Linked DNA regions of Homo sapiens: region 2 is linked to region 1. The links come from fine-mapping of genetic effects on gene expression. A gene starts in region 1. The other region holds a variant in brackets. All regions are shown on one strand. Distances are from middle to middle. Region 1 holds the start of PFDN4 (prefoldin subunit 4). Region 2 has its middle 37 kb from the start of BCAS1.

Evidence for each region. PIP is the estimated chance that this variant, and not a neighbour inherited with it, causes the effect.
Region 2: its variant is the best candidate, but not a certain one, in a credible set for the expression of PFDN4 in pancreas (GTEx, PIP 0.56).

What each region holds. Positions count from the first base shown.
Region 1 is chr20:54,206,567-54,209,494 of GRCh38, forward strand. PFDN4 (prefoldin subunit 4) reads left to right here and starts at 1,521. Exons shown (of 4, transcript NM_002623.4): 1 at 1,521-1,558. The coding sequence starts at 1,535. It overlaps LOC124904937 (a long non-coding RNA gene), which reads right to left and starts at 1,475. Exons shown (of 2, transcript XR_007067669.1): 1 at 1,391-1,475; 2 at 380-490. RefSeq lists enhancers at 918-1,735, 1,276-1,595, 1,736-2,552 and a silencer at 1,586-1,855.
Region 2 is chr20:54,106,169-54,109,096 of GRCh38, forward strand. No RefSeq gene overlaps it. Among named protein-coding and RNA genes, the nearest start is that of BCAS1, 37 kb to the left of the region's middle. The variant A/C (reference allele first, on the strand shown) is at 1,531.

The DNA.
Region 1 (2,928 bases):
AGAGGAAATTGGGACTTTGAGAAAGGAGGAGGCTTGTCAGGGGCAGTTCTCAAGCTGTGGCCCATGAACCTCGGGGGTCCCTGAGACCTTTTCAGGGATCCATGAGGGCCTCCCTTTCCCAACTACATGATTTGTATGAGGCTGGGGTTTTTCATACCTACAACTAGGCAACTAAACAGTGTATTTGGAGAGACTGAATGCAGAAGTAGACATGAGAATGTAACCTTCCATTAAGCCTGATATTAAAGAGATCAGTGAAAATGTAAAATGATGACAATCTTCTCAATTTATTTTTGTCTTAGAAAATATAGTTATTTTTAAAGTGTGATTTTTATTACCATGGAATGGAGTTTTATATTATTTTAAATGAATTAATAAATACATTTTAAAAATTCTGCTTTAATTTCTAATACAGCAAATATCGATAAATAACCCACATAAACAAAAGTTCTTTGGAGTCCTCAGTAATTTCCAGGAGTATAAAGAGGTCCTAAGGCAAAAAAAAAAAAAAAAATTACTAATTGGGAGACACAAGTGTCAGAATATACAGTAATTGTTCAGTAATATTGCTGTAAATTAATTAATAGGATTGCCTAGTCACAACAGCAAAGGCATGGAATCAACCCAGATGCCCATCAGTGGTGGATAGGATAAAGAAAATGTGGTCCATATACACCATGGAATACTATGCAGCCATAAAAAAGAACAAAATCATGTCCTTTGCAGCAACATGGATGCAGCTGGACATCATTATCCTAAGTGAATTAACACAGAAACAGAAAACCAACCACTCATGTTCCCACTTATGAGTGACAGCTAAACACTGGGTACTCGTGGACATAAAGGTGGGAACAATAAATGCTACGGATTCCAAAAACGGGGAAGGAGGCAGGGGAAAGGGGTTGAAAAATTACCTGTGGGGTACTATGTTCACTACTTGGGCAACGGGATCATTAGAAACCCAAACCTTAGCACCATGCAGTATATCCATGTAATAAACCGGCACACATACCCCCCGAATTTAAATTAAAAAAAAATTACATTAAAAGATAGGAGTACCTCCTTTACACCACCTGAATTATCATGGCACATAAATCTCACACCCTATTTGCCAAGGCCATTCGTTCCTAGCTGTTTTACAGGTAGGTTAGCTTTCTCAATGCAAGTCTGTGGGACGGATGGAGAAAAATTCCCCGAGCCCTTTGATCCTGCCCCAGCTGGGCCCCGCCGCGCTGAGCCTTGGGCGCGCCCCCTGCTGCCCGCGGCCGGAGCCGTTCGCCACACCCCCGTGTTTATGTCGGTCCACGGGGGTTGCCTGTCCCTTTAATTGGCATGTACCAAGTCCTTCCAGGTCACATTTCCTCCCTACGTCCCAGCCGTTTGGACTCACTGGCCAAAAGTCCAAGAGGACGGAATGTGGAGACAGTGTTGTATTTTTGCGGGGAGTTCTAGGCCGACCGGGAGCGAGAGAACGCTCGGGGGCGAAGCGCGCCATTGCGGCCCTCCCCGCCGCCTGCGGTAGTCCAGTCCCAAGATGGCGGCCACCATGAAGAAGGCGGTGAGTGGGGAGCTCGGGGCTCTGGATGCTCGGGCGGCGCCGGATCTCGGCCGCTGGGGCCCGGGCGCGGGATGCTGGGGGTGCGCAGCTCCGAAGCCCGGCGTGGGACCCGAGGCCGAGGCCGAGGCCCTGAGAGCGGTCCCGCGGCAAGGCCTGCTCGCGCCTGGCGCCCTGAGCGTTTTCCTAGGCACCTGGCCAGCCGAGGCGGGGCGCCGGGGCTGGGGCCGGGAGCCTCGAAGGACGCAGGTCCGCCTCCCGCGATGCCGAGGGTGCCCCCGGGGAGTCTGAGGAACCTGCAGCCCCGGCCTCGCCCCTGAGGTGTGGGAAGCCGAAGGTCCCGTTGAGTGTGGTTGGCCTTGACTCGGGCGTTGCACCGGCATGATCGCATTAGCCTCACTGGTTATGGGTAGCTGCTGCTGGGAGCGTGGTTACGGGTGAGGAAACTGAGGCCCAGAGATGGGGAGTCACCTGCCCGAGGTTACGCAGCTCATAACGGGGACAGCAGGTTCCTGCATCCCCAGATTAGCAGGCCCCAGAGACCCTGTGTCCAACCTGGAGCTGCCCATTTCCACGCTTGATGCCCCTGAGTCCTTCAGGCTAAAACCAGTATTTATTGAGAATGGAAGATGTGCCGGGCCCAGCAGCCGGCCGTTTATCTGTTATCCTCCCCGCAACTCAGCAAGTGCAATGGGTTCCTCTCCACTTTGCAGGTAGAGAAACTTAGACACAGAGCAGTTAGAGGCCCTAAAGTGACTCAGCTAGTAAGAAGCAGAGCTGGAGTTCAAACTCAGGTTTGTTTTTGTTTTTCTCAAAGCACGCCTGTGTAACCACTAAGCCGGCTAAACTTCCATGTGGGGTTTTTAATCCCGTGAGCCTTCCCAGATGTGTAAAGATAGTCAGATAGAAGAAAAAGAAAATTGGAGAGGGGGAAGGAGATAACGGCTGATAATTTGGGGAGCTTTACAGTGTGCTAGGTACAGCTGTAAGTTGTTTTGCGTGTATTGTTTATTTTATGTTCTTTGAGGGAGATACTGTTTTTATCCTTATTTAACAATGAGAAAACAGGCGCGGAGGCAAAGCTAGCATTTAAACACAGGCATTCTGACTCCGGAGTCTGTGTTTTAAACTGCTATAGGGGGTCTTTGATGAGAATCTCTTGGCTGGAGGGATTTGCGTTCATTCCACTTTTAAGACCACATTAGAACTTCTTTGCTTTGCCCCTATCCAGTACCACATAGTCTATGCCATCTGTGCCTGGTGTAGGGTGACCCATTGCCCCCTTTTATATGAAATTGAGGGACTGCCAAAAATGGGAAAGCCCCAGCCAACTCAGGATGTGTTGCTCACCCTACTATTCTGCCATCCAAAAA
Region 2 (2,928 bases), 100 kb before region 1:
TTACCATGTGCTGTTGCTATTCTAACTGCTCTTCTTGCATTATAGCCTCAGTTTCATCCCTGAGAGACAGGTCCTATTTTCTCCATTAGCCAGGCAAGGAAACGGGCAGACAAAGCAGATTTTCTGAAGTTACACAGCTTAGAGGAGAGTGGTCCAAATCCCGTCTTCATCAGTTCCTGGCCATGTGGCTCTGGCCAACTGGCTTATTTGCTTTAAGGTTTGTTAGCTCTTCTACTAAACTGGAATAATAATGAATAATAATAACAATGATAATAGTTTCTAAATGACGAGGTCGTTGTGAGGATTAAACAAGCTATTATATTTATGGAATGCAGTGTTGCCTGCACAGTCAATACTCAAAATCTGCTAGCTATTATTTTAAAATTATGGTTATTATTACTATATTGACATGTATGTTAGGAAGCTGTTATTCTATCTCAGAGATAATGCTTTTAATATAAAATATAAATATAATTGTGTGTATATGGGATAGGTATAAATCTTAAGCTATTAATTCACTGTTATGCCTTTTTAAAGTGTGTAGATTATGTAGTCATAAGTTAATACCTATAGCTTTCATTCTTTTTCCAATGAAATAAAGCTGTTCATTAAGAGCGTCATGTGAACCAAAAATTTGGAATAAAATCATATTGAATTGTACCAGAGTAGGAACTCTCATAGAGTACTGGTGGGCATTTGAAGTTGCAAAAACCATGGAGAGGGAATAATTTGGCAAGATCTAGTAAGGAGGAGGCTGTGCATGCCTGTGACCTAGTAATTAATATCCTGGAGGGACTCACACATGTATACAAGGAGACTTGGGCAGGAATGTTGGTGGCAGAAGGATTTGAGATAGTAAAAAATGGAAACCAACTGAAGGTTCAGCAACTAGATAAAACAAATGAATTAGAGCTCTAAGTACTGGCAAGGTAATATCATAAAAGTAAAATATTGAATTAAAAGGAAATTACAGGAAAATATATGCAGAATAAAATCTGCAAACAGTATCATAAAACTGATCATGAACATATTCATATATTGCAAAAATATCATACAAGCTTGAAATAGTGAATACCAAATTCTTGAATTCAGAATGGCTGTTGTTTCTGGATAAGGAGGAACAAAGATGGGTTTGCTGAAAAGAAGGCAGTGCAATTCAACTGCATCTGGGATGTGATTTTTATGAACGTGTTGGGGCATGAATGACCAATGCCAAGATTTGACAAAGCTGGATGGTGGCTGCTTTTTTGTATGCTTGAAATGTTTCATAATTGTAAAAAAATCCCATTTTATTACTTGTTTTGCCTTCTCTCCTCTTTTTGTCTTCATCTGTTTCATAGTTTCAACAGACTTAGCACCTTATGTCTAGGTGTACGTTTTGAGGGGACAGCAATTTTTTGTGCTACAAACTTTCTGTAAGAGGTCTTGGACTTAGGGATTCCAGTTCTCAGTGTTAGACCTTGTTTTCTGCTGGGTTCAGATGAGAGGTCATACAGTGCAAGCTGGGGCCCAAGTTGAGTTAATTATTTA[A/C]TAAGGCTTCCACTTAGTCTGTGTAAACTCCACGAGCTCTCCTGATGGCCAACTCATTCACACTCCTTGGCCCACAGAGGGTTCAGAAGGGCCAGGAGGTGAGACAGTTGGTGAGAACAAACGGCATCCTTCCCTGCTGTTTATCAGTGTTTCTGCTGCTTGCTCAAGTAATCAACAGCATAGGTAGGGCTTAAAGAGGAAATCCGGTGCCTGCAGAATTATGACTGACCTATTGAGGAAAGGTTCAGAGAGGCTGGGGAGTTTGTGACCTTCCGGTTAAAGTGTGACTTCAACCAAGGCAGACCAGGAGGGTGGGTGAGGCATCCAGTTCATAGATGAGATCAGTGTCAACGGGTACAAATCCAGCAGGGTGACTCCATGCGTGTGTGTGTATATGTGAATAACACAAAGCATGTCATGAAATAGATGCATTAAATCTGAAGTATGTAATGTTGTATATAATGTCTTAAAAGTTCCCAATTCAGCACACCATGAAATGTCTAACCATGACAATTAAACAATGAAATGGCTCGACAGGAAGGGCTTTTGCATTCCTTACAGAACTTACATTCCAAAAAAGCCAGGTGGAGACATAAAACAATCCTTCCTCATAGATGGTTTGTGTTGTGTTGGTTTATTTTATTTTATTCTATTTTATTTTGATAAGAACATGTAATATGAGATCTACCCTCTTAACAGACTTGTAAGTGTACAGTAGAATGTTGTTATCTATGGCACAATGTTGTACATGGGTCTCTAGGACTTACTTATCTTGCATAACTGAAATTTTATATTTGTTGATTAGCAACTCCCATTTCCTCCTCCTTCCAAACCCTGTTAACCTACATTTTATTCTTCATTTTTATGAGTTTGACTGTTTAGCTAGCTCTTATAAGTGGAAACATGCAGTGTTTGTCCTTCTGTGACTGGCTTGTTTCACTTGATGTAATGTTTTCAAGGTTTATTCATGTTATCACATATTTCAGGATTTCCTTCTTTTTAAAGGCTGAATTATATTCCGTTGTATGTGTGTGCATGTCTATGGAATATAATTATACATGTACACACATACAATGGAATATATATATATATATATATGTATATATATCACATTTACTTTATCCATTTACCCTTTGATGGATATTTAGGTTGTTTCCACATCTTGGCAATTGTGAATAACATTGCTATGAACACAGTAGTGCACATACCTCTTCAAGATCCTGAATTGAATTCTTTTGGATAAATACTCATAAGTGGGATTGCTGGATCTTATTATGAAGCAAAATTAGACAAGTGGGACTACATCAAACTAAAAATCTTCTGCACATCAAAGGAAACAATAATAGAGTGAAAGGCAACCTACAGAATGGGAGAAAATATTTGCAAATTACATATCCA